Homo sapiens: one gene and its partners. The protein of the gene in region 1 purifies or fractionates together with the protein of each later gene. This does not show direct contact. Each region holds a gene or a part of one and is shown in the gene's direction. Other genes may lie near its edges.

Region 1 (7,377 bases):
CAGTAGGATCTTGGGCCTCCGAAAGGTGGGAAGAGCAAGGACTGGCCGGCAGTGCCGACGGGGCTGCCCCGCGAAGGGCGGGGCGACAGGCTGGATGGCAGTTGTTGCCGGGTGGCCATGTTGGGGGTGACAGCAGAGATAAGGATAAGGGTGACCAACGTGGACAGAAAAAAAAACAGCCACAAATTCAACTTCCAGGCACATGTGTACCTTGATGACCCCCTCCAGCCCGAGCCCAGCCCAGTGGGGTGGCTGGGTGGCAGGGTAGGGAACACGTAAGAGGCGTGAGTGCCTGGGGACTCCCAGCTTCCCTGAAGCAGGCCTCTGTCCAACTTCAACCCCAGAAGCACTGAGCTCTCAGTAAAGGGAGAGGAAAGGCCCAGAGAGGCCATCATCTCTCTCAGCTCACAACTGGAATCCCAAAGCATTTGCACAAAGGACCAGGACCCCAGACGGCAGCCAAATGCAGCCAAACTGAGCAGGGCAATGGAGGCCTGACATCCAGCCCCGGGGCCCACAGATGATCAGCCAATTATGGAGCAAGTGCAGGGAAAACCGCGTGGGGCACTGCAGAAAGCAGGGGAGGCTTGAGGTGTGCCCAGAAGCAAGGTAGACCCAGCAGGAAACCAGTAACCAGTGCTTTTGTGAAGGCCTCCACCAGGGGTCCCAGCAAAGGCCCTGCCTACCTAAAGAGACTGCAGGGCGGCCTGTGTCTCACCCAGAGCTACTTCATCATAGGCTGAAGTAGTCCGCAGCCAGTCGCCCGTAGATGTCCGTGGTCCAGAGCACATGGGCACGGCCTGAGGCTAGAAGCAGCTGGTGCAACTCAGCTTCTACGCGGGCAAACTTCTCCTCATTGATGGAGGCCTCCAGCAGGACAGAGGCAGGCGGCGGCCAGGGCAAGCCCTCATAGCAGTCCACAGGGAAGGGGTGCACCACAGTACGCAGCTCAGCCTGTGCCACTGAGTCCCGCAGCAGCTCCTTGAGGCCCGCCATGGACAGTGGGTTGCCATAGAGGCCAAGGTACCGGAGACTGGCGCACTGAGTCAGGATGGGTAGTGTGGCCAACAGCTGGGTGTCTGCGAGCTGACACTCAGTCAGCTCCAGATGCAACAGTGTGGCTGCTGATGCCTGCAACAGACCCTGGAAGGGTGCCAGCTGGCTGCCAGACAGGTCGTTACCACTCAGGTCCAACTTCTTGAGGTGGGCAGCATGTGGGCTCCGTGCCAGGAAGCGTAGGTCCTCAGGCAGCAGAGCACAGAAGGCCAACTCCAGGCTCTCCAGGGGGCTCTGCAGGGTGCTACAGGGGACACAGGGGTCACAGACAGGCAGAGCCAGGGAGGGTCCCTACAGAAGGGAGGGGCAGGGCAGTGGTGGGGCCCGCTCACCTGAGCAGCTGGTCCAGCCTCCCTGAAAGGAGAGAGGAGCCCATGCTGAGCTCACGCAGACAGGTGAAGCGGCCCATCTGGGCAAGGAAGTAGCGGAAGTTGTCCTCGCCATCCACGGAGGGCTGCCTTGAATCCCCATGCACATAGTGGAGCCGCAGGCTGGCCAGGTGCTGGAAGCGGGCCACGTGTGGGATGATCACAGACAGGCCGCGCAGGCCCAGATTGTTGAAGCGCAGGTCCACGCGGCGCAGGCAGCCTGCATCCAGAAGCTGCAGCAGGGCCACAGTGTTGCGCATGGGCAGGTCCTCAGCTCGCAGGTCCCGGCAGCAGAGCCGCAGCGGGCTGCCCACGCTGCTTCGGAGTGCCTCCCGCAGGAACGCATAGGAGGCCCGGTTCACCCGCAGGTCCACGCGCACCTCCACGGGGATGGGGGCTGGCCCAGGCTCTGCGGCCCCACCCTGCTGCTGGGCAATGCATGTGCGAGCTACGGCAGCAGTACAGTCCCACATGCTCATGGTGCCAGGATCCTGTTCCACACCATCATCCAAGAGGCCCGTCATGTCCAGCACCCGCAGCGCATGCTTCCTGGGAGTAGGAATGGTGTGAGGAAGGGGTGGAGGGGCAGCGCCCATACCCCCTCCCAGCCACCTTGGGACAGGAGCAACGCGCCTGCTCCTGCATGAGCTCTTGCTAACTTTATGACCCAAGCCTCCTCAGGGGACCCACTTACACACCCCTGGCCTGACGACCCTCCAGATAAGTCCATACCTGCAGAGGGGCTGTGTGCTGGCCCCAGGCTCTGAGGTGTGGAGCCGGGCAGTCAGCCCCAGGATAACAGCCTGCATGCTCTCAGTGCTAGGCCGCTCCTGCAGGAGGGCACGGCTGCAGTGGGCACACTCCTGTAGCAGCTGCTGGAAACTGAGCAGCGGGAAGGGCCACGTGTGTACCAACTCGCGCAGTACCACTGTCTTCTTGTCCATGAAGGCCACCTTGAACAGCAGGGGGAAGAGTTCGCGTGGCAGCAAGGGCAGGGCCTGGCAGGCAGCTGGCTGGCACTGCAGCACCTGCCGTGTGCTCAAGAACACAAGCGTGTGCATGGTGCTGGGCCGGGCAGACGGCCACCTGCAGGAGAGGGACTTCAGCAGGGAGGAGAGACCCTAGGCCACTACCAAGCCACACACAAGTGGTAGGAAGGCCCAGCATAGTGCCTGAAACAAAGTCAGCAGTTAGCAGTGGCCATGGCACAGAGAAGCACCTATTAGATGCCTAGCGCTGGGCTGGGTGCAGTGAACTGGCAGACAAACTCACAACTCAGCCCCAGCCCTCCAGATGCACAGGATCTCTTTAGAGAAACTAAGCGTCAAGCAGTGTGGCATCGTCAACAACTCGCTTGCTTGGGTATGCTTTTGACAGATGCCTGTTGCCTTGCAGGGCCCCCCATGGGTACTTCAGGCCTCTCAAATTACAAAGCTGCTTCACAAAACCTTCTTCGAAACCTGAATAAAGCCCAGGACTCTCCCCACCAACCTTCATCAGCATTAGTATTGACGGGACACTCTAAGGAGTCAAGCAGCCAAATCACCTTTCCCTCCCCTCTCCTCACAGATGCTCTCCAGGGCTACACTTGGACTCCACAAAACACCAAAGAGCTGGAAGCACAGAAGCAGCTTCATAAGCAACAAGGCAGGTTGAAAAGACCGAGACCCAGGGAACACCGAGTCCAGATGATGTAGCCTATAAAATACAAGCCCCCGCAAAAGCTACTATTCTCCAGAGCGTCACCAAGCACGGAGACCCCGAAAGAAAGCAACCCTCACCTTTGTTGGCCCTTACCACTGGCCTAAACCTCTCCCTCTTCCCTGGAGAGCCACTGTGGAAAGACCAAGTCTTAAGTATGTGGGATTCAGAAGGTGCAAAGCTACAGACTGCTCAGACAAGGCAAAGAAAGCTGCCTCAGCAGCACCCAAGCTGCAGAGATGCACAAACACTCCCAAGGCCACAAGGTACCTGTGACACAGGGTGCCAGCCCTGCTGCTGCCTGTAGCATCCTCAAAACTAAATCGCAGCCATCTCCCTGTGACAGATTAGAAAATGAAGGCCTCGGCCTGGCCCAAGGTCACAGCCTGAGTGACAAGCCAGGGAAGGGGGCCGGGGAAGACACTCTGGCCCCAAGGCCCTTCTTTTTGTCGACTTTTCCACATACAAGTAAGTCCTTAAGGCACCGGTTCCTGAAAAGTCCCAGACACCAACCCTCGGCCTAGTTCTGCCGGTGGACAGATCTCAACGATCATACTCGCTCTGACAGGACAGACCAACCGAGCACTTGTCACGGGAGAACACCAAAGCAGACGGCCTGCCCACCAAGGGAGGCAGGCACCTCCGTGCGACGCCCCCTCCCCTCCCGCCGGCCGCAGGGAACGCGACGGTCCTCGGTCGCCTGCGTTTCGCGAAGACGCCCCCGCCCGGCTCCTCCGGGCCTCGAGCCGCGGGAGGCGCTGGACCCTCCGCTCTTTCGCCTCCCGAGCGGGGCCTGCTCCTCCAGGTCGGATGCGTCTCCCACCAGGGCCTGACGCCGCTCCGACCGGCCCGGGGACTCCCAGTCCTTCCCGGCCCGCGGTGGCACCTCCCAGGCTCCCGGCCTCGGCCCCGGGCTCCCAAATGCAGCCACTGCCTCCCTCGGCCAGGCCGCCCCGAGCGACCGGTGCCCCGCCCCTTGAGGCCAGGCAGGGCCAGGGGCGTGCGCCGCCCCGCTCAGACACCCCCCCGGCCGCCCGCGCTCACCGGTCCCGCAACCGCAGCCACCGCCTCCAGCCCCGCCTAGACCGTCCGCCGCTCCCCGCCCGGCGCCGCGGCGCCCCGCGATGACGTTGACGCCTCCCATTGGCTGCTTGTCCGAGGCCCGACGGACTGGCTGCCCAGGGGCGGTGGCCCCGCCCCCGGCCCGCCGCGCATCCGCATTGGCTGTCGGCCCCCGCGACGGCTGCGCGGGAGATTCGCTGGACGATCGCAAGCGCGGAGGCCGGGCGGGCGCGCGCGCCATGGAGCGGCTGCGGGACGTGCGGGAGCGGCTGCAGGCGTGGGAGCGCGCGTTCCGACGGCAGCGCGGGCGGCGACCGAGCCAGGTGCGGGCTGCCCAGGGGCCGAGGGGCTGAGGGCGCGGCCCGCGGCTGACGCGTTCCCTTTACAGGACGACGTGGAGGCGGCGCCGGAGGAGACCCGCGGTGAGCGCGCGGCGGGGCGGCGGGGGCGAGAAGACACCGGGTCGGCAGGGGCCCAGGCCCCACCCTGACCCCGCCTCCCGCTCGCCCACGCAGCGCTCTACCGGGAATACCGCACTCTGAAGCGTACCACGGGCCAGGCCGGCGGCGGGCTCCGCAGCTCCGAGTCGCTCCCCGCGGCGGCCGAAGAGGTACCCAGGCCCCGCCGCCCCAGCCTCCTCCCACTTCCCTGTTTGGCGGAGTGGCGGGAGCCACGGAGTCGCGGCCAGGCCGCCGTGGGGCACAGAACTTGGGAGGGGGACTGGGCAAAGTGAAGAAGGGCCGGGCCTCGCTCCAGGTGCGGGAGGGGTGGCTGGGAGCGCTTCTGCCGCCACAACAGCCTTTTCTGGCCTGTGCCCCTGTTGTCTCCTGCAGGCGCCAGAGCCCCGCTGCTGGGGGCCCCATCTGAATCGGGCTGCGACCAAGAGTCCACAGTCTACGCCAGGGCGGAGCCGCCAGGGCTCGGTGCCGGACTACGGGCAGCGGCTCAAGGCCAATCTGAAAGGCACCCTGCAGGTGAGGAGTGGGCAGGCAGTGAGTCCACGCTAGGTCCACAGCTGCTTCCGGTCCGGGTCGCCCTCTTGTCATTTTTTCCACACAGACAGGCACGGGCCCCTGTGCCAACCAGGGCACGAGTCTTCAGGGAGCTTCTCGGGGCCTTCGCCCTTGACTCCCTTTCTAGTCCAGCCTTGTGCTAATTAGCCTGCTCTACAATTGAGCGTGGGGACTCAGGTAGGTTTTAGAGTCTACAGTAGCTCAGGGGCCTGAGTTCCTCCTGCTGTTCTGTTGTTCCCCTCCCAGGCCGGACCAGCCCTGGGCCGCAGACCGTGGCCTCTAGGAAGAGCCTCATCTAAGGCATCCACCCCAAAGCCCCCAGGTACAGGGCCTGTCCCCTCCTTTGCAGAAAAAGTCAGTGATGAGCCTCCACAGCTCCCTGAGCCCCAGCCAAGGCCAGGCCGGCTCCAGCATCTGCAGGCATCCCTGAGCCAGCGGCTGGGCTCCCTAGATCCTGGCTGGTTACAGCGATGTCACAGTGAGGTCCCAGATTTTCTGGGGGCCCCCAAAGCCTGCAGGCCTGATCTAGGCTCAGAGGAATCACAACTTCTGATCCCTGGTGAGTCGGCTGTCCTTGGTCCTGGTGCTGGCTCCCAGGGCCCAGAGGCTTCAGCCTTCCAAGAAGTCAGCATCCGTGTGGGGAGCCCCCAGCCCAGCAGCAGTGGAGGCGAGAAGCGGAGATGGAACGAGGAGCCCTGGGAGAGCCCCGCACAGGTCCAGCAGGAGAGCAGCCAAGCTGGACCCCCATCGGAGGGGGCTGGGGCTGTAGCAGTTGAGGAAGACCCTCCAGGGGAACCTGTACAGGCACAGCCACCTCAGCCCTGCAGCAGCCCATCGAACCCCAGGTACCACGGACTCAGCCCCTCCAGTCAAGCTAGGGCTGGGAAGGCTGAGGGCACAGCCCCCCTGCACATCTTCCCTCGGCTGGCCCGCCATGACAGGGGCAATTACGTACGGCTCAACATGAAGCAGAAACACTACGTGCGGGGCCGGGCACTCCGTAGCAGGCTCCTCCGCAAGCAGGTAAGACAGCGACGGGCCAGGACAGGCATTCCCTTTCCCTCCCCTCAGCCCTCCCGTATTTCCCGCCCAGTGACCCTCCTATGTGGGCACCCCCCAGGCATGGAAGCAGAAGTGGCGGAAGAAAGGGGAGTGTTTTGGGGGTGGTGGTGCCACAGTCACAACCAAGGAGTCTTGTTTCCTGAACGAGCAGTTCGATCACTGGGCAGCCCAGTGTCCCCGGCCAGGTGAGACATCTGCCCTGGAGGGTGGGTCCGGCCAACACTGTGGAGAGGGCGCAGTGCTCTTTTGGGGGACACTTATGTTCCAAGCAACAGGCCTTCCAGGTACCCCTGGTCCAGGCCCTACCCTAGCTCCCCTGAAGGAGGGTGGCAGGGACGACGATGGCTGTCACTCTTTTCTGCTTTGGAAAAAGTAGCCCAGAGGAAGGGCACTGCCTGCTGCCAACCCCCTTTGGGGGAAGGAGAGGTTGTGGCCAGTGGTTGTCTTGCCCGACCTGGAGCTCCCATTCTACCCTCTCCTGCCTGCCCCAGCAAGTGAGGAAGACACAGATGCTGTTGGGCCTGAGCCACTGGTTCCTTCACCACAACCTGTACCTGAGGTGCCCAGCCTGGACCCCACCGTGCTGCCACTCTACTCCCTGGGGCCCTCAGGGCAGTTGGCAGGTGAGCAGTCAGCTTCTGGCCCAGAGCCTTCACTGAGGGGTTGGGGTGACTCAAGTCATGGTGATCAACATCTGTGTCTGCAGAGACGCCGGCTGAGGTGTTCCAGGCCCTGGAGCAGCTGGGGCACCAAGCCTTTCGCCCTGGGCAGGAGCGTGCAGTCATGCGGATCCTGTCTGGTGAGCGTGGCTGCCAGGGCTGAGGCTGGGCTGAGGCCAGGCTGCAGAACCCTGCTGCTGACTCCCGCCCCATCCAGGCATCTCCACGCTGCTGGTGCTGCCTACAGGTGCCGGCAAGTCCCTGTGCTACCAGCTCCCAGCGCTGCTCTACAGCCGGCGCAGCCCCTGCCTCACGTTGGTCGTCTCTCCCCTGCTGTCACTCATGGATGACCAGGTGTGCACACAGGGCCCTGGGCACACGTACACAGCCAAGAACCAGCACTTGTGACTCCCAAGGGCAACTGCTGCTTGTCCCCTAACCACCCCCTCCCCTGGG
Region 2 (7,024 bases), on another chromosome or scaffold:
CTTGTTTTATTATCAGAGATGATTGGGGCACTTCTTTCTTTGTAAGATACCCTTAATATTTTGGGGAACCAGGTTGGCATCACAGAGGGCCCTTCCCAGCAGCTTTGTTTCTACTTCAGCTATATTCAGGTCGTCTTTTGATTTATCTTTATTAAAGGGATGACTGTTCTCTGAATGAGATAGTTCTCTCTTACCTGTTTTCCCTTCCTCTTTTTATTTACATGTTCAAGTAGAAAGGGATTACAGCCATTTATGTATTCAATTCCTAAAACTTTCTTTTCAAATCAGAAAGATTCTCAATTGCTTTTCAAAGCAGACCTTTCCTCCTGACTCCACATGCAATAATTAAGAAGCGGAAGGCTGGGTGTGGTGGCGTGCACCTGCAACCTCAGCACTTTGGAAGGCTGAGATGGGAGGATCAGTTGAGCCCAGGAGTTTGAGACCATCCTGGGCAACACAGCAATACTGCAGCTCTACAAAAAAATTTAAAAATTAGGGCATGATAGCACATGCCTGTAGTCCCAGCTACTTGGGAAGCTGAGGCAGGAGGGTTGCTTGAGTCAGGAGTTAGAGGCCATAGTGAGCTGTGATTGTGCCAGTGACCTCCAGCCTAGGCAACAGAGCAGAGACTGTGTCTCTAAAAAAATTTTTTTAATAAATAAAGAAGGTGAACTTGCCCAAGCAACCAGATTTTTTTTTTTTTAAGACAGGATCTTAACTCTGTCACCCCAGCTGGAGTGCAGTGGCACGATCTTAGCTCACTGGAACCTCCACCTCCTGGGCTCAAGCTTCCTGGGCTCCATCTCCCTGCTCAAGCGATCCTGTTACCTCAGTCTCCCAAGTAGCTGGGACCACAGGCATGCGTCACCACACCTGGCTAATTTTTTGTATTTTTGGAGACAAGTTTTCACCATGTTACCCAGGCTGGTCTCAAAGTCCTGGGCTCAAGCGATCTGCCCACCTTGGCCTCCCAAAGTGCTGGGATTACAGGCGTGAGTCACCGTGCCTGGGCAACCAGAACTTTTTATAAACTTGTGTGTGTATGTGTAAACATAAATATACATACATACTTTTACTGTTGGACTGTATTAAAACAGGAGTTTTAAAGAGGTGGTTAAGATAGACAGCAGACTTTGCTTCTGAAGGTGATAGTGGGATAGCAGATAATGTTTCTTGAACTGTCACTTGGAACCAAGTACTGTGTTAAGAAAGTACTAGGTTTGTTATCTCTAATCTTCACTCCAACCCTGTGAGGTAGGACTGTTATATTAAGTTTATATTAACTTTTTTGTTACCACCGTTACTTTGTTAGCAAGGTTTAATATTGATATCCTTTGATGTACTAAGAGCACCTACTGAAGTCAGCACTGTCAAAAGACTGCTGGTCCAAGACTTGCTTTGGGAATACCAACCCCTCTACCAATTTAGCTGTTTGAGAAGGCTGTCTCAGGGCTACTTCTTACATATCTTGGCCTCAGTTTTTAAACTTCTCATCCTGTGATCAGAAAGCTAATGAAAGAGAATTTGATTGATGAGCATTCTCGTTCACTTGAAATGCAACTGTGAGAGATAGCAGGAATAAAGAAGGTGATGATCATAACTAGGGAAGTTAGGATGGCAGTAAGGGAGAAGTTCTATCAAAGACAGTTAGAAACACTGAAGTTAGTGGACTTTGTCAGTTAACACTCGTTCCTTAGCAGGACCAAGATTCTTTCTTTGAGAGCAGTAACATTATTGAACAAAGTCATTCTGAAAACCCTTGTTTTTTCAGGCAAGAAACTATATTCAGTCTTTGACTCAGATGCCGAAGATGAACTTTGCGAATGTATTTATTGGTGCCAATCCCCTGGGTAAGTTGACCATATATCCTCACCTCATGGATATTGAATTGGTTATGATATAAATTGGGGATTTGAAGAAGAGTTTCTCCTTTTGACCAAATAAAGTACCATTAGTTGAATCTTGGAAGGTGATAAATACGGCTTTTATTATCTATTTGTGTTGTCAGATTTTTTTTTAATCACATGAGATGATTGTATGTTTAAATGATCACAGAACTTGGGATTGGGGGAATGGGCAGGTACAGTGGAGAAAGGAGAGAAAGTAATGGGAATGTTGAGAGAAAAGATTGGTGAGGCAGGAAGAAGCAGATACAGAAGAAAGCTGTAACTTGCTCACAACTGCTGTGGATTTATGGTGTCTCTGAGTGGAGGACAGAAACCACTGAAGTGCAGGTGGGTGTTTAGAGGAGCCACCCAGGAGCTCCCTGCAGGGTGCTCTGCTCTAACGGTAGCTGCCGTTGCTACAGATCCTGTCGTCTTCCACACTCATGAACTTTTCCCCTCTCCTCTTCTTTCTCTGCCCTCAGAGGCATAACCGTCCTCTCCTGTTTGTGGAGCTTATTTGCTACCTAAACTTAAAGGAATGGCTTCCTATGCCTTCAAGATCCTTGGCAGAGGGAAGTGATGGTGGCAGCTGAAGATATGTGTTGCCTTGGCTAAAAAAGGAGTTGCTTTATTATTATTATTTATTTATTTATTTATTTATTTATTTTGGTAGTGTCAGGGTCTCGCTCTTTTACCCAGGCTAGAGTACAGTGGCACAATCATAGCTCACTGCAAGCTTGAACTCCTGGGCTCCAGTGATCCTCCTGCCTCAGCCTTCCAAATAGCTAGGACTACAGGCATGCATCCCCAAGCCTGGCTAATTTTTTAAAGAATTCTTTGTAGAGACAGGGTCTCACCATCTTACTAATCGTGGACTCCTGGACTCATGCAGTCTGCCCACTTCAACTTCCAAAAGTGCTGGGATTCAGACGTGAGACACTGTGCCTGGCGGACTATATTCTTTGAAGGGGAGGAGTGATGTGTGCTTCAGATGGCCCCTGAAAGCTGCTTTGCCTGAGGCTCATTCCCTGACTCTTGAAGAGGACAGTGGACAGTGCTGTTTAATGGTGGACACAGAAGGATCAGACCAGGACCTCCCTACAATAGGGAAGGGAGCTATGCTATGGTAACGAGTATAATCTGCCTTCTCACTTTTCTTAAGATTGTATTGTGTGGTGTGTTTTAAAATCTCACTGCATTTCTTTGCATCTGTTTGGGTCATCTGTCTTCTTAAGGGTCTTGGCAGCTATGCTTCAGGTTTAGTTTTATCTTTTTGAGGGCTGACAGCCATGCTGACCTCTTTAGAAGCTGGGGTGAAGGCTAGGTGATTTTACCTTTTTAAGTACTTCATCCATAGTGATTATGGAGAGGAATTTTAGTGTCGCTGTGATAATTCTTATAATAGCAGAGATACTCACGCTCTTTGAAGTTTTGGGCAGTTGTGGATGAGTTCGTGTCAGCCTTGGAGACAGAGAGTATGTCATATCTCAGCTGGGTCGCTCTCCTGCCCTAGGATGAATCCACAGTCTCATCAGGGGTGGGTACGATTCTACTGAGACTGGCTTAGGTTTGCATCTGCCCTGGCATGCTCTCATTGGCTTTGTGTGATTTATTTGAGCTGTATTATCTAGTTCAAGGGTCTGTGAGAAGCTCTCTTTGAGCCTTAAGTACTACAGGATGTTGGGAAAAGATGTTGTGTTCTTTCTTTCCTTTTTTTTTTGAGACAGAGTCTCGCTCTGTCGTCCAGGTTGGAGTGCAGTGGTGCGATCTCGGCTCATTGCAAGCTCCACCTCCCGGCTTTAAGTGATTCTTCTGCCTCAGCCTCCTGAGTAGCTGGGAATACAAGTGTGTGCCACCACACCTGGCTAATTTTTTGTATCTTTAGTAAAGACGGGGTTTCACCGTGTTAGCCAGGATGGTCTCGATCTCCTGACCTCGTGACCTGCCCGCCTCGGCCTCCCAAAGTGCTGGGATTACAGGCATGAGCCACTGCACCCAGCCCGTCGTGTTCTTTCTTGTCGTCATTCTGTTCTGAAGTTGTTTCATTTTATAAGCCTTAAGTTTTGAACAGGGCAGTACTCACTGACACCCTCTTAACAGACTCAGAAAGATGTGTTAATTCATTTTTTAGGGGGAGAGGGGAGATATTTGTGTTCCAGCAGCTTATTTAGGTCACATACCTCCTGATAGGTCTTCCCATTCTTTGAAATCATGACATTGAAACCTCCAAAAGAACTAGATACCACTTTGCTAATGAGTTGAAAGGAGGCTTTGGTCCATCTGGTGCTCAGCACTGTACTTCTCAGCATTTAAACGTGCCTTACAGCCCATTGCCAAACAGTGATGTCATATAATGAGGCTCCCCTTGCTGGGCAGATGGAGCACAGTGTTACTATCACAAGCTCGTGCCCAGCATATTAACTGAGCAGGAACATGCCAGAAATATAAATATTAACAGCTCTGTTTTGTCAGCCACTGACTTTGTTTCACTGCTATTCCCAAAACATGAATTAAAACTTAAATTACCCCTTGATGTTAGTGTATGTATTTATCTGTCAAGATTTTTTTTTTTTAAGAGATGGCATCTCACTCTGTCACCCAGGTTAGAGTACAGTGGCACAGTCACGGTTCATGATAACCTCGAACTCTTGTGTTTAAGTGATCCTTCCTCTTCCCTATCCCAAGTAGCTGAGACAACAGGCACATAATGCCATGCCCAGCTAATAAGATCTTTGAGGAATTTGTTCTTGCCCCTGACCTTATTGGTTATAAGAACATGGTCCTTTTTACCCTAAGGGTAACAGAGACTTGTCGTATAATCTGTGTTCAATTATAAAATCAACAGCTGATAAGGTTTCTTTTTCTAAGAAGAGAAGACCATCAGAAGAATATATATATATATAATCCAGGCATTCACCTAGTACTGTAAAGTGTAAACTTATGAACTTGAATTGACACATGAATATTTACTTTGTTTCTGTATCCCCTTGAAGCCCATATTTCTCCAGTGGATTACTCTGGAATTCAAGCTGTAGGACGGGTGTTTTACAGCCTCCAATATACACAGCAGTAGATCTCTATAGGAAGCTGTCCTCTTCACTACTCACCCCCACACCCTCCACATTTAAGGAGTAATTTGCAAAGTCTCAAAAGCCTTTTTCACCACAGTGATAACTGGTTATATGGCAGTATTTATTCTCCCAAGTGCCACCATGCTGAAACACAAAAATACTCATTTGAAATATAGAGTTAGACAAATTACCATTTTGTAACCCCTTATGAAATAATTGCTTTTGGGAAGGAAACCCAGTGAATGCAGAAAGCCATAAGTGAAAAGAATGGATATTTACTTGGTACCAAAATATCCCGCAGATTACTTGCTTTGGTCAAAGGGGAAACATCTTAACCCAGTGATCAATTTTAGCTCATTAGTAGTGGGACAGATGGCCTTAATGCACTGTCACGTGCACAGCATCACCTGTATTTTTGCTGAAAATGTTTAACCTGATTCTTACCAAAATTTTTGACCTAACTTCCGGTTTTTGGGAAGTACAGGGGATAGTGGAAAGCAGGGTATAGACACATGACAGCAAAAGAAGCAAAATCAGACACATCCCGAGAAACGGTCATTCTCAGGACAATCAGAGGGTCTCTTTAGATCAAAATCAGGAAAGAACAGGGCTTAGAAGTAAGAAGATTATTCTAGACTAAGAGAGACTAAAGAAAACCAGTCAGTTGCAGTGCATGGCCCCTAATTGAATCCTGGTTTCAACAAACTAGTTCTAAAAGACAACGTTGGAATAATTGGAGAAATCTTAACATGAACTGGATTTTAGATGATATTTAGAAATTATTTGTCAGAGATAATAACAGTATTATGATTATATAGGAAGATGTCTTCGTGTTGAAATATTTGGGGAGGGTAAAGTGTCATGTCTATAATTTTATTTTAAAACAGTTCAGAAAAAAATACATATAAATACAGAAATATAAAAATGTTAATTGTTGAATATGCTAGGCATATGAGTGTTCACTTTATCATAGTTTTTACTTTTCTGTTTCTGTATATTTGAAATTTTTCATAGTGAAATTTTTAAAAATAAAATTCCCTTTGATTTTAATACCATGTCTCACCCTCATCACCATGTAAAACCCCCAGTTTATTCACTGTTTGAAGATCTGTTGATGAATATTTGATGTTAGTAAATAAACAGCTTAGGGGGACAAAAAAAAAACAGCCCTGCCTACCTATTGTAGGTTACTTCAGCTGTAGGCTTTGTTTTATACAGTTTGACTACACTGGTAGCAGTTTGACATTGACGGTCCACAAAAGCCTGTTCAAACAGAATCCCAGTCATTTAAAAAAATTCTTCTTTAGTAACATATTCTTTAAAAATACAAAATACAGGAGGAGGGTGAGGGTTGAGAGATAACCTATCGGGTACAATGTTCACTATTTGGTTAATGGGCACGCTAGAAGCCCAGTCCCCATCAGTCCGTGGTGAGACCCATGTAACAAATGTGCACATGTACCCCCAAATCAAAAATAAAATAAAAAAATTTTAAAACATAGAAAATACAGATACACACACACACACACACACACATACACACATAAAGGAGAAGAGGGCTAATATATCCTAGAGTAGGTATTTTGGAGGAGAGTTCTTTGTTTGGATATGAAGGGTCAAAACTATGTTTGCTCAATAAGGCATACTTTTTTGTAACATGTTAAAAACTCTTTTCCTTCCTGTCTATGGTACTGATAGCTGTCGACTTGCTGGAGAAGATGCTTGTATTGGACTCAGATAAGAGAATTACAGCGGCCCAAGCCCTTGCACATGCCTACTTTGCTCAGTACCACGATCCTGATGATGAACCAGTGGCCGATCCTTATGATCAGTCCTTTGAAAGCAGGGACCTCCTTATAGATGAGTGGAAAAGTAAGTCCTAAGGGTAGGATTAACATCTTGAACCACTAACCAAAAGCGGTGGGAAAAATAAAAACTGAATGGTCATAACCAACTTGCTAAAGCTTGTAGATGAGGTCTCTAATGCAGAATGAATATGTTCTCTGGTGGAAACTGTTGTAGACAGTGATACTCTCTGGACCTTTGAGATACTTATGTCTGGTCTGA
Region 3 (7,024 bases), on another chromosome or scaffold:
GTCATCTGAAACATGGAGATGATAATCCTTACTGCTGCCAATTAGTCTGTAGATTGCATGAGCATAAAATGAAATAACTGGCATGCTGTCACTTCAAAAAATAAACTTTTTACACAAAACTGTTCAAAAAACTAAATGGTATAGTAGAAAATGGAAGGGAAGATTATTAATATCATTTACCATCCTCCATCCTCATCACTGCCATCACAAGCCCTCTTAACAAGTCATTGGCAGACACTTAGCAGCTGGTGGAAGCTTTTTATGGTGTTGTGGTTGGGGGTGGCTGAGGGAGGGCTGACCAGCAGCTCCTCTCAAAGACCCAGAGGATCTGGAAGAGATAGGGTAACTGGGGAAGGGAGACAGAGATGGCCAGGTTTTCTTTGGCCCATGGGATTACCACACAGAGAACAAGATGGAAAGCAGACAAGGGGGCCTCGGGGCACCTCCTAGAGGAGGGGGCTTTGATAGTGAGAAAGGGAGGGTTTGGGGCTGAAGAACTGGCTGTGAAGCTGAAATGGCACCACATCTCCTCCCCCCCGGGAGCCTCTGGGGATCACACTTACCCTGAAGAGGGCCCAGTCCCCTTTGGAGGGGTAGAGGGCTCAACCTTCCTGCTCTCATAGGCTGGGAGGGGAGGGGCTCTCTGATGGTATTCCCCCACTTGCACTGTTTAGGGTGGCTGGGTCTGTCTGTCAGCAGCAGAGCCACCCAGGATCTCTAGGAAGGTGGAGTCCCAGGCTAATGGCAGGGCAATAGCTAGGAGGGAGAGATAGCAAGGCAGACTCTGCAGTATGTGCACTGGGACAGACTGCAGAAGGAGGCGGCCACCTGCTCCTCATTGTTGTGAATTCAGATGTACAGAATGAGGACTGGCAGGGATTTTAGACCTTCCAGTTCAGCCCCTACTGATGAAGTCACTGAGGTCCAGAGAGTGGGAGGAGTTTGTCCCAGGCCATGGGGTGGGTGTCAGGTCACAGCTTGAGCCCAGATGTCCTGACTCCTGGGCTCTGAGCTCTTGTTCTTATTTTGTCCAGAATGTCTCTCTGGCCCCCTCTTTTCCTCCAGATGTCATTCTGTTCTCTCAGATTTCTCTCGTCATACTCTTTGACTGGGTCATTTTCTGCATCTCCTTTTGCCCGTTTCTCTTCTCCTTCCTCTCCTCACGCCCCTGCCATGTGTGAATGCCTACTGTGTGGAACAGAGGCACACAGCTGAGGATGTGGTGGGGCTGAAATCCATTGTGTTTGCCCGGAGGGGTGCCTTTTCCTAATGCACCCAGAGAAGTGGCCCTCAGAGCAGAAGCCTGGCCCTCAATGACTCAGAGCACTCAGATTGCAGCTCTCCCTGGGGTGGGATAAGGTCAAGGGAAGGGAGAGAAAATGGTGTCAGCTTGAAACTAGTATAGGAAATGTTATTGGTACTGGTAGGTTTCTTTTTTTGTTTTGTGTTTTCTCTTTTAATTTTAGTGCTATATAATGTATATATTTATGGGATGTAGAGGTTTTTGTTTGTTTATTTTTGAGACAGAGTCTCGCTCTGTCTCCCAGGCTGGAGTGCAGTGGCGTGATCTCAGCTCACTGTAATCTCCGCCTCCTGGGTTGAAGCAATTCTCCTGCCTCTGCAACCTCTGTCTCCTGGGTTCAAGCGATTCTCCTGCCTCAGCCTCCCAAATAGCTGGGATTACAGGCGCACATCACCACACCTGGCTATTTTCTGTATTTTTGGTAGAGTCAGGGTTTCACCATGTTGGCCAGGCTGGTCTTGAACTCCTGACCTCAGGTGATCGCCTGCCTCAGCCTCCCACAGTGCTGGGATTACAGGCGTGAGCCACTGTGCCTGGCCTAGAGTGATACTTTGATACAAGTATATAATATATAATAATCAACTCAGAGTAATTAGTATATCTGTCACCTCAAACACTTATCATTTCTTTGTGTTGGAACATTCAAAATCCTCTCTTCTAGCTTTTTGAAAATGTATAGTAAATTATAGTTAATTATATTCTCCCTGCAATGCTGCACAACACTAGAATTTATTCTTCCCATGTAGCTATAACTTTGTATCTGTTAACCAACTTCTCCCCACCCTCCTCTCCCCAGCCCCCTTCCCAACCTCTAATCATTACTATTCTACTGTCTTACTTCCATGAACTCAAATTTATTATGGATGAATAGTACTCCATTGTGTATATATGCTACATTTTCTTTATCTATCTGTTGATGGATGCTTAGATTGAGTCCACATCTCAACTATTGTGAATAGTGCCACAATAAACATGAGTGTGCAGGTATCCCTTTGATATACTGATTTTCTTTTCTTTGGATAAATACCTAGTAATGAGATTGCTGGATCATATGGTAGTTCTATTTTTAGTTTTTTGAGAAACTCTCATACTGTTTTCCGTAACGGCTATACTTATATGTAGAAAAACCTAAAGGCCCCACCAAAAAACCCTTAGAACTAATAAACAAATTCAGTAAAGTTGCAGGATACAAAATCAACATAAAAAGTCTACTGCATTTTTAATACACCAATAACAAACTAGCTAAAAAAGACATCAAGAAAGCAACCCCATTTACAATAGCTACAAAAGTAAAATAAAATACCTGGGAATGAAGTTAACCAAGGAGGTGAAAGACCTCTTTAATGAAAACTACAAAACACTGATGAAAGAAATTGAAGAGGACACAAACAAATGGAAAAATATTCCATGCTTGTGGATTAGAATTAATATTGTTAAAATGACTGTCCTACCCAAAGCAGTCTACAGATTTAATACAATCCCTGTTATCAAAATACGAATGACATTCTTCAGAAAAATAGAAAAAAAACTAAAATTCATATGGAGTCACAAAAAACCCCAAATGGCCAAAGCAATCCTAAGCAAAAAGAACAAAACTGGAGGCCTCACACTATCTTACTTCAAAATATACTACAGCCAGTTGTGGTGGCTCACACCTGTAATCCCAGCACTTTGTGAGGCCGAGACAGGCGGATCACGAGGTCAGGAGTTTGAGACCAGCCTGACCAACATGGTGAAACCCCATCTCTACTAAAAATACAAAAATTAGCTGGGCGTGATGGTGCGCACCTATAATCCCAGCTACTCGGGAGGCTGAGGCAGGAGAATCACTTGAATCCAGGAGGCAGAGGTTGCAGTGAGCCGAGATTGTGCCACTGCATTCCAGCCTGGGCAATAGAGTGAGACTCCATTAAAAAAAAAAAAAAAAAAATATATATATATATATATATACACACACACACACACACACACACACATATATGTATATATATATACACATATATATGTATATAGATACATATATATGTATATATACATATATATATATATACTACAAAGCTGTAGTAACCAAAACAGCATGTATTGATATAAAAGCAGACACATAGACCAATGGAACAGAGTAGAGAACTCAGAAATAAATTCACATATTTACAGCCAACTGATTTTCAACAAAGGAACCAAGAACATACAATGGGGAAGGGACAGTCTCTTTAATAAATGGTGCTAGGAAAACTGGGTAACCAACCATACGCAGAAAAATGGTATTGGTAGATTTTGTCTGTGTGCTTATTTGAGTTTGATTGTACTGCGTGGGAACTGGACAGCTACCTCCCTAATTAGCATTAATATTTTCCCAGAGATTATTTGGCTGTCAAAGTATAGTAAGAAAAAGACCTAAAATAGGGTCCAGAAGTCTGATAGAGAAATACAGGTGAGGCTGGTGTGGTGATTCACACCTATAATTCCAGCACTTTGGGAGGCTGAGGCAGGCAGATTGCTTGAACCCAGGAGTTTGAGACCAGCCTGGGCAACATAGTGAGATCCTGTCTCAAAAAAATTAAAATAAAATAGAAATACAGGTGAGAGGGAGAAGCAGCAGGACAAAATGTGTAAAATAGAAGAGACCTTTTGATAGAGGTGATAGGAAAGGAAAGACAAACCTATGGGCTGGGAGCATCAAGAAGACATTAAAGGGATTGGGGTGACAGGAGAGGCCCAGAGAGACACTGCATCCTGCCCTGGTAACCCGGGCAGGCCCTGCAGGATCAGGTGGCATGCTTGTACCCTGCTTCTCCTGCTGTACACCCCCGTGAAGAACTTTCTTGATGCTCTCTCTTAGTAACCGGGCACATCCCCTCCGGGAGCTTGCCATGACTCATTGCCGCAGCCCCACTGCTCGGCTCTGCCTGTTTCATGACAGCTTCAGATGTCTTGGGTGAGAAGAGTCCTCCAGGAGACTTGGGCGGATCACTTCCCTCCAGAGGCCCTGTATGTGGCTGTGGATGGGGGCTCCTGAGTCTTTCAGCCTCTTCTCCTCAGGGCCAGCCCTGCCCTGGCTCTCGGGACCCACCCTCTCTGGGCTGCTCACAACCTTTAACCTTTAGAGGACTCTTCTTTCTCCTGTATGATTCTCTCCCTTTCTACTGTTCTAGGAACTTCCATGTCAGGAAATATGCCCAAATGGGCCTCTGGCCCACACTCCAGCTACTGCTCCATTCATTTGCTCTTTTATGCCACCTTTGTCAGCAGAGCTGTCAGGACACACTGTCTGTTTTGTTGCCTGTCCTCTGAAGCCGCCTTGGACTTACATGTTTTGAGGGGCATGTTAGAGGACTTGGCCAGAAATGTGCTACCAGTCTCTGGGCACTTGCTTCATAGCGGGGGGTTGGGATGTGCCTCTGACTTCTTGTCTTATTCCTCTGGAGTAAAGCTCACAACTCTTCCCAAACTTTTGGAAGCAGTCATCAGCAGCCACAATTTGTTAATTCCATTTGTTTCCCAAATCTCACCCTCTCCAGGAAGCCAGCCTGCACCCCACCGGCCCCTGCTCCCATCCCCCTTCACTCTGCTCTCTTTTCCCGTGGTGCGTATCACTCACGTAGTATGATGTATTTGCTACATTGATTATTGTCTGCTTCCCCCTGCTAGAATGTCAGCTCTACAGAAGTAGGGATTTGTCTCTCTCTCTCTTTTTTTTTTTTTTTTTTTAACTGTTCTGAGGCTTCTAGATGAGTGCCTGGTACCTAGGAAGCACTTAATAAATATTTGTGGAATGAGTGAAAGGAAGGCAAAAATCAATTAATACAGGGTATTAAGGAGGCTTTTGACTCACAAAAGGGAATCTGAGCATGTCAGAATAGCCCTCTTCCCACTCACCCTGCCCTACCACCTGTCTGTCACAGAGATAGCACCACCATTCTCCCCCCTGTACAAACCATGCTCTGTTCTTGTTTATCCTTGACCAGTATGTCCAGTTGAATCTGTCTCTAAAATACCTGGAATGTATTGCTTCTCTCTTTTTCTCCCTACTGCCACCACCTTAGTTCAGGCCATCTTTAGCTCTCCCCTGGTCCACGGCAAAAGCCTCCGGACCAACCTCCCCATGTTCCTCTTGCCTCCTTAGTCCCTTCTCTGTGGGGCAGCCAAGTGAGTGGTCACTTAGGGTTTTGGCTCACTGCTGTACAGTGACGCAAACAGAATAGAAGTTTATTTCTGCCTCAGTTAACAGTTCAGAGGTGCAGGGTCTAGAGCTATCACAGTAGCTGTACATAAGCTTATCCAAGGGACTGGGTTACTTCCATGTGGTTCTTCCACCAGCTTCTAGGGATGTTGTCCTCTGCTGCGTGGTCAAAGTTGGGCTCACCACCACCATGTCCAAAATTCAGTTGGGGTAAAAAGGAAGTAGAAAGCAATTTTCTTTTTTTAAAGGACAATGCCCAGAATTATGGTCATTGCTTTCTATCACATTCCATTGGCTGGAACTTAGTCTCATGACCAGACCTTGTCGTAGGGGATCTGGAAAATGTAGTCTTCCCAGGTGGCCGCCTGACCAGCAATAACTCCGGGGGTTCTATTATTAAAAGGAGGAAGGGGAGAGTGGACTCTGGAGGTTACACAGCAGTCTCAGCCACATGTAGAGCGGATCACACATATCATGCCCCTACTTGAAACCCTTGGTGGGTTTCCACTGTACGTGGAGCAAAAGTGAAACTCCTTACCATGCATATCCAGCCCTGCGCAGTCTGGCCTCTGCCGTTCTCACCAAGCCCTTTCCTGTTTTACCTTACCTCTCTTCATCCGGCCAGTACTTCTTATCCGTCAATTCTCTGCGCAGGTATCTCCCAGAGAGGTTGCCCATGTCATCTCCCAGCCATTGTGGCTTCTGTCATTGTGCCGATTTTGTTTGTTTTCTTGTTGTTTTATGCAGTGACCCCACTGGAATGTCAGCTCCATAAAAAAGGGACCACATTTGTTTTGTTCACTGATATGTCCCATCTCTGCTACAGTGTTGGGTGCAGATGCATTGAAGTCTTATTTGATTCATATTGATACTTGTGCTTTTTTCTTTCCCTTCTAGGACACGAGAGACTTCCTAAACAGGTAAAAGAGTCTCCTCTCCATGGCGTACCTCATCCCCCTTGTTTATGTTCCCCCGCTTCTGACCAGGTGCATTTGAATTCATGGGGAGTGGTATGGTGCCAGAGGTACTCACATCCCATGGTTCATCCTGATGCCCTTCTGAGGAGCAGGACACATCATTGAGAACTGGAGACTTGCTCTCCTCCTTATGGTTCTCTGTGTAGCCCCAGCTCCTTGGCCCACTGGCCTTATTTGAGGTGGGACAGAGCAGAGAGGTTAGAAACATGGCTTAGTAGACAGAGCGCCCTGGATGTGGAGTCTACTGATGTTCTGAAGCCCTGGTTCAGCTGGTGTCTTTGGGCCACTGTTTTTCTGTCACTTGTTTGGGGATAATCATACCTTTCCTCTCCCCTTCATAATTGCCATGAGGATTGAGAGATAAGTATGAAGGAAAGTAAGAAGAGCTGAGTAACAGCTTGTTATGTATGTCATCTTCTTAGGTATCCACGGAAGAAGTTCTGGGTTGGGAAACCCATTGCTCGAGTGGTTAAAAAAAAGACCGGAGAATTCTCAGATAAACTCCTCTCTCTGCAACGAGGCCTGAGGGAATTCCAGGGTAAGGGTTGGGGAGCGCACAAAGGG
Region 4 (7,024 bases), on another chromosome or scaffold:
ACCCTCCGCCTTCCAGGTTCAAGCGATTCTCCTGCCTCAGCCTCCCCAGCAGCTGGGATTACATGCATATGCCACTACGCCCGGCTAATTTTGAATTTTTAGTAGAGACGGGGTTTCTCCATGTTGGTCAGGCTGGTCTTGAACTCCCGACCTCAGGTGATCCGTCCGCCTGGGCCTCCCAAAGTGCTGGGATTACAGGCATGTGCCACCTTGCCCCACCTCACTTGTCCCCTTTTTGTGTAGTGTTCTTCATCCGGTTAGAATATCTTCCTCCCTCACTTCATATTCCTTGTTTTTTCACTTTATTGTACACTTACCACTTCTTGAAAAGCTCTGTATCTTACTTTTTAAATTGTGTTGTTTCCTGGTCTAGAATATAAGTTCTACGGGAGCAGGAATTTTTGACTGACTTGTATACTCCTGTCTTTTCAGTGCCTAAAAAAGTGCCTGGCACATAGTTTGTGCTCAATAAATATTTAATAAATATGTGAATGAAATGGGAAAGTATTTCGATGTAGAAAGCATTATCAGTTTTTTATACCAAAGGTATAACCATCTTGAAAGTGGATCTTTTTGTGTTCTCACTCTTACAAATGGCTTGATTATTTAAACATAGTGAAGATCAGTTTCTCTTTGGTGTCTGTAATTTATTTATTTATTTATTTTTGTTTTCTCAAGCCTAGGGAGCTGGTTTGAGCAATCTCAGGGTAAAAGAAAATGATTAGTTCTCAGAACATCAACATTGTATGTATTATCTTGGAAGATGGGTTAAGATCAAATTGAAAAATTACCGGAAAAAAATTAAGATGGCAGTTATGTATAGATTTTCATTTCTTTTTCCTGTGTGGTTTTAATGATAAGTAGTACAGGCTTTTAGGACTGGTACGATTTTTCTATGTCGTAGAACCCTTTTGTAAATACTTTTGGTATTATGGTGTGTGTTTCTAGATATTAACCATAAGAACTTAATTCTGGTTGTTAATTAATTAGACTCTTGAAATATATACTTACAGCTGAAGGGGGTCTTCCCAACTCTTCATTAGATCTTCCTAATCTCATTGGGATATAGCATTAATTCTGAGTGTACCGAGAATGAAATACCATTAAATTGCATTTTCTTACTTTGCAAAAAACCCTCACAGAATGCTAACTCATTACTTCAGAAAATAAATGAGATTTTGAATTACTTGATAAGTTGACTTTAAGCCTTTTCCCCCTTATTGTAGGTCCATATACTTTTGTTCAGCAACATCTTATGATTGGCACAGATCCTCGAACAATTCTTAAAGATTTATTGCCGGAAACAATACCTCCACCTGAGTTGGATGATATGACACTGTGGCAGATTGTTATTAATATCCTTTCAGAACCACCAAAAAGGAAAAAAAGAAAAGATATTAATACAATTGAAGATGCTGTGAAATTACTGCAAGAGTGCAAAAAAATTATAGTTCTAACTGGAGCTGGGGTATGTAAGACTAGTACATGGGGAGGTCGTATATGTATTTTCTTATGCCTTTTCCAAGTAGGAAACATTTTTCTGGTTTAGAAGGATTTATCCTTACATGATAATGGATGTTTGGGAACTGCCAAAAACTGAGTGCAGCAGCAGTTGCTAAATTAGTTCAGATTTTTAAAACCTCTCCAGCCTTAAAAAAATATTTGCTTCTGCTTATTTATAGCACAGTGGGTAAATGGAGTTAAGGCAAGATTTCTACCTACATTATATCATAGCTCCTAAAGGAGATGCAGGGAATTGAAACTCTGCTTTTGTTAAGGGATGTCAGTCTGATGGAGAAATTGGGTATTTGTTAGATCTTTATGAGAAACTGGAAACCTAATTGGTATTCACAAGTGAAAAGCTTAGTGTTGGGAAGAGTAACAGATTCCTACCTTCCCTCCATATTAATTAAGATGATGTGATTGTGGCGACTTGACATTTTCTATTTGATCTACCTTAGGGTTGCAGCTAATTAGTTACCTAAGACTATTGCATAGTGTGTGTTTTATACAGAGTATATTACATGTTAGCAACCAGAGCAACTGCTGTAGTAAAATTTTGTCCTGTTTTCTGCCATTTCGAGTTGCGAAAGGGTGTTACATAATCTTAGATGATCATCAGGAGTATGTTTTGCTCACAGATAACGATGTAGACAAGTTTGTTTAACTTAAATTGACCTTGACTCCAGGTCAAATTGGAGTCAACTCTGGTAAGATGATGAAACAATAACTTCTGAAATCTCTATTTGAAATGTCAGGATTTTTTTGTACGATTAGTGGGCACGTCTCAAAGAAATGAAGAATTGAAATATTATACACCTTTTTTTTTTTTCTTTTTTTTGGATACAGGGTCTTGCTGTGTTGCCCTGGCTGGAGTGCAGTGGTGTCATCATGGCTCACTGCAGTCTCAGCCTCTCCTGGCCTGAGTCTTGCTCTGTTGCCTAGGCTGGAGTGCAGTGGCAGGATCTTGGCTCACTGCAACCTCTGCCTCCTGGGTTCAAGCAATTCTCTTGCCTCAGCCTCCTGAGTAGCTGGGATTACAGGCGCACACCACCACACCTGGCTAATTTTTGTATTTTTAGTAGAGATGGGGTTTCACCATATTGGCCAGGCTGGTCTGAAACTCCTGACCTTGTGATCCGCCTGCCTTGGCCTCCCAAAGTGCCAGGATTACAGGCGTGATCCACCGTGCCTGGCTATACATTGTTTTTTTTAATGAAAATAGAGAATTGTTGTAGTATTGAGGTAATAGAATCCTAACTAAAGGAGCAATTTCTTTGGAATTACTTCTCTGTAATAGAAATTCTTGGCTGGTGGAGTGGCTCATGCATGTAATTCCAGCACTTTGGGAGGCTAAAGTGGGAGGATCACTTGAGCCCTGGAGTTTGAGATCACCCTGAGCAACATAGACCCTGACTCTACAAAAAATTAGCCTGGTGTGCTGGTGCGTACTTGTAGTCCCAGCTGCTAAGGAGGTTGAGGTGGGAGGATTGCTTGAGCCGGAAAGGTTAAGGCCATAATGAGCCATGATGGCACCACTGCACTCCAGCCTGGGCGTCAGAGCGAAACTGTCTAAAAAGAAAAAAAACAAAAAGCCGGGCGCGGTGGCTCACACCTGTAATCCCAGCACTTTGGGAGGCTGAGGCCTGCGGATCACGAGGTTAGGAGATCGAGACCATCTTGGCTAACATGGTGACACCCCGTCTCTACTAAAAATACAAAAAATCAGCCGGTCGCGGTGGCAGGCACCTGCATTCCCAGCTAATCAGTAGGCTAAGGCAGGAGAATGGTGTGAACCCAGGAGGCGGAGCTTACAGTGAGCCGAGATCGCACCACTGCACTCCAGACTGGGCGACAGTGTGAGACTCTGTCTCAAAAAAAAAAAAAACAAAAAAAAAAAGAAAAAATTCTTCCCTACTTAAAATAATTTGTTGAAATGGTTTATTTTCTTCTCAAGTTGCATTTGCTTTAATTTGTTGGCTAAATGCTTAAAAGGCTTAAAATTGGCCTGACTTAAAAATTCCTTATCTGTGTTAAAGATGGAATATGAGGTATGTTTAATTTTACTCAGTTATTTGGGAGTTTTATTTCTGAAATAAGGGTAGGGTTGTATTTTTATTTCTTAAAAGAAGTTTCAGACTAAAATTTTCTTTCTCAACTCTTACCTAATTATATGGTAAGAGAGCTAGCTAGTTCCTATAAAGGTAGAAGATTTAATTTTACAAATTATGCCATGCACATTTTAGGTGTCTGTTTCATGTGGAATACCTGACTTCAGGTCAAGGGATGGTATTTATGCTCGCCTTGCTGTAGACTTCCCAGATCTTCCAGATCCTCAAGCGATGTTTGATATTGAATATTTCAGAAAAGATCCAAGACCATTCTTCAAGTTTGCAAAGGTACTATGAACTCTTCTGGTTGTTTCTTTGGCCTTCTCTCATGAAAAAGTATTTTGTTCACATACAGCCACCTTAAGGTTATCGTTCATTGTTTAGTAAAGTGAATGCTGCTACTGTGGCGGAGTAAGATCACTCATTATGGCTAGAATTCCTTTATTCCTAGAGGAGGACTATTATCTACTTCATTTTAGGAGTGAGCTTATTTTCAAAGAGATAGTTCATATTTTTAAAATTTGCACTGCAGCGATGGTCGTTATTCTGCCTGGGCTTTTTTAAGAGGTTTGCACACCATATAAAAGTAACATAACTTGTGATTTTTAATATTTTATTAGAGATTGTAAAGGTTATAACATCACTTTGGTGTTTCGTAGTCAAGTTTTAACATAAGGATGTGCCTGAAAAATCATTTGTAATTAGAGAATGGGAAGATTCTTGGGTTGCATTTTTGTCAGCAAATTGCAGAGGATCATTATTCTGCTCTAGAGTTGCACCGTCCAGTTCAGAAGCCACTAGCCACATGTGGCTGTTGAGTACTTGAAATGTATTGATATGTGCAATAAGTGTAGAAGACATATTGGATTTTAGAGATCCAGTATGGAAAATACAAAGTATTTCATTAGTTTTATTCATCAAATATTAAACAAATATTGGTTTTTATATGGAAAAAATACTTAAAATTAATTTTGAATTCTTTTGAAATACTTTTGATATTGGGTTAAATAAAATGTATTTTGGGCTGTGCGTGTTGCCTCATGCCTGTAATTTCAGCACTTTGGGAGGCCAAGGTGGGAGGATCAGTTGAGCCCAGGAGTTTGAGACCAGCCTGAGCAACATAATGAGACTCCATCTCTACAAAATAAATAATAAAATTTGCTGAGCATGGTGGTGTGCACCTGTAGACCCATCCACTCAGTAGTCTGAGGTGGGAAGATCCCTTGAGCTCAGGAGCTCAAGACTGAGTGAACCATGATCTGCCATTGCACTCCACCCTGGGCAACAGAGCAAGAGTGTTTCCAAAATATATGTATGTTTTTTGAAGTTTACTTTTTTTTTTTTTCTTTTTTTGAGAAGTAGTCTTCCTTTGTCCCCCAGGCTGGAGTGCAATGGCATGATCTTGGCTCATAGCAACCTCTGCCTCCCAGGTTCAAGTGATTCTCCTGCCTCAGCATCCTGAGTAGCTGGGATTACAGGCGCCCGCTACCATGCCCAGCTAATTTCTGTATTTTTAGTAGAGACAGGGTTTCACCAGGTTGGCCAGGCTGGTGTTGAACTCCTGACTTCAGGTGATCCACCCTCCTCGGCCTCCCAAGGCTCTGGGATTATAGGCGTGAGCCACCGCGCCTGGCCAGTTTTCACCTTAATGTGGTTACTAAACAATTTAAAGTTATATGTATGTCTCACATTATGTACCTATTGTACAGCTCTGCTTTAGCATAGAAAGTTTAATAATGCATTACACCATTCTCAAGAGATTGAGTCATTAGAAAACTGTTTTCTTTCCTGTATTTCAGTCTTTTGGAAAGAAATTACAAAATTTGTTATTGTTAAACTTGGAGGTATATATATTTGAAAGAGTCATTTTATTTTATTTTACTTTAAGTGCCGGGATACATGTGCAGAATGCGCAGATTTGTTAACATAGGTATACATGTGCCATGGTGGTTTGCTGCATCTATCAACCTGTCATCTAGGTTGTAAGCCCCACATTCATTAGGTATTTGTCCTAATGCTTTTCCACCCCTTGCCCCCCACCTCCTGACAGGCCTCTGTGTGTGGTGTTCCCCACCCTGTGTCCATGTGTTCTTATTGTTCAACTCTCACTTATGAGTGAGGACATGTGGTGTTTGGTTTTCTGTTCTTGTGTTAGTTTGCTGAGGATGATGGCTTCCAGCGAAGGAGTCTTGTATTAGTGGCTTTTTCCCCACCTAATCGTTAGAAGTTGTGAATAGGGACTTCTTTAATGAATCCAGAAGTTAATGAACCTAGCTTTTTTTTTTTTTTTTTTGGAGACGGAGTCTGGCTCTGTTTCCCAGGCTGGAGTGTAGTGGTGTGATCTCTGCTCACCATACAACCTCCACTTCCCGAGTTCAAGAGATTCTCCTGCCTCAGCCTTCCGAGTTGTTGGGACTACAGGCGCGTGCTGCCATGCCTGGCTAATTTTTGTATTTTTGGTAGAGACGGGGATTCACTATGTTGGCCAGGTTGGTCTTGAACTCCTGACCTTGTGGTCCGCCCATCTCAGCCTCCCAAAGTGCTGGGATTACAGGTGCGAGGCACCGCGCCCCGCGCCCTGCCGATGAACCTAAATTTTAACTAAACAGTGGCCTTATCTACTTTCAGACCATGTGGTATATTTACATGACTACAGGAGAAGCTTTGCTAATTCAGAATAAATTATGTTACTTAAATTGGCGACTGTCTTTAAAAAAAAAGTGATTTTTTGGATGCAGTAGCTCGTGCCTATAATCCCAGTGCTTTGGGAAGCTGAGATAGGAAGATCTCTTGAACTCCGGAGTTTGAGACCAGCCTGCGCAACACAGTGAGACCCTAATCACTACACCCCTCCACCCCATGTAACTTTTGTTTTATCCAGGTTGTGGTATATTAAATGGGCATTAGTGTAAAGTGGGAAAATTATATTAATTCTTGAATATGATTACTAAACTGAATTTGAAAAGTTTTCAGGCTATCAAGAGAATTTTTAACTTAAAACTTATATAATTTGAACTTTTTACTTCATATATCCGTAATGATGATGGTCATCTATATCTAGCTTTTAGAGCAGACAACTGGTTCATACCTGGATTAAATAAATAATGTAAAGTTATTTTTTGTTAATTATGGATTAGTGAAGATTTACTGTTTTAACCTACTCCTGCTAGTGGCACTACTGCATGGTTTTGAAGACCAGTGAAGTATGACTTAAAGGTTTCTTGAATTGGAGCTAGGACACTGGCATTTATAAAATCTCCACGTAGCGCAGACATTGACACTATCAGAAGACCAGCAAGTAACTAGAAGTTACTTTGATCTTAAATCAACTACAAAAAACTTGACTCACTAGTTATGGAGAATACATTTTTTATTGTTAAACTGAAAAAAAATTCAGTCACTTATAAGGTGTA

Evidence for each region.
Region 2: the proteins of RECQL4 (region 1) and MAPK14 purify together in Homo sapiens (affinity purification with mass spectrometry; 4 studies listed by BioGRID and IntAct, with this or other methods). This does not show direct contact.
Region 3: the proteins of RECQL4 (region 1) and TRIM26 purify together in Homo sapiens (affinity purification with mass spectrometry, with the first as the bait; 2 studies listed by BioGRID). This does not show direct contact.
Region 4: the proteins of RECQL4 (region 1) and SIRT1 purify together in Homo sapiens (affinity purification with mass spectrometry; 3 studies listed by BioGRID). This does not show direct contact.

The regions. Positions count from the first base shown.
Region 1 is NC_000008.11:144,514,834-144,522,210, reverse strand, and holds the start of RECQL4 (ATP-dependent DNA helicase Q4), read left to right. Parts: upstream 1-4,377; 5' UTR 4,378-4,426; coding exon 4,427-4,510; exon of another isoform or gene 4,511-4,575; coding exon 4,576-4,609; intron 4,610-4,702; coding exon 4,703-4,797; intron 4,798-5,020; coding exon 5,021-5,161; intron 5,162-5,446; coding exon 5,447-6,223; intron 6,224-6,320; coding exon 6,321-6,447; intron 6,448-6,753; coding exon 6,754-6,885; intron 6,886-6,968; coding exon 6,969-7,061; intron 7,062-7,138; coding exon 7,139-7,275; intron 7,276-7,377. Other genes in the region: LRRC14 (leucine-rich repeat-containing protein 14), read right to left, coding at 733-1,300, 1,389-1,973, 2,157-2,485. UniProt on the Homo sapiens protein: An ATP-dependent DNA helicase which unwinds dsDNA with a 3'-overhang in a 3'-5' direction. Does not unwind more than 18 bp of dsDNA. May modulate chromosome segregation. The N-terminal domain (residues 1-54) binds DNA Y-shaped DNA better than ss- or dsDNA.
Region 2 is NC_000006.12:36,100,800-36,107,823, forward strand, and holds part of MAPK14 (mitogen-activated protein kinase 14), read left to right. Parts: intron 1-1,771; coding exon 1,772-1,850; coding exon of another isoform or gene 1,851-1,903; exon of another isoform or gene 1,904-1,965; intron 1,966-6,655; coding exon 6,656-6,829; intron 6,830-7,024. UniProt on the Homo sapiens protein: Serine/threonine kinase which acts as an essential component of the MAP kinase signal transduction pathway.
Region 3 is NC_000006.12:30,189,392-30,196,415, reverse strand, and holds part of TRIM26 (tripartite motif-containing protein 26), read left to right. Parts: intron 1-6,380; coding exon 6,381-6,403; intron 6,404-6,882; coding exon 6,883-6,998; intron 6,999-7,024.
Region 4 is NC_000010.11:67,887,656-67,894,679, forward strand, and holds part of SIRT1 (NAD-dependent protein deacetylase sirtuin-1), read left to right. Parts: intron 1-1,226; coding exon 1,227-1,468; intron 1,469-3,746; coding exon 3,747-3,899; intron 3,900-7,024. UniProt on the Homo sapiens protein: NAD-dependent protein deacetylase that links transcriptional regulation directly to intracellular energetics and participates in the coordination of several separated cellular functions such as cell cycle, response to DNA damage, metabolism, apoptosis and autophagy.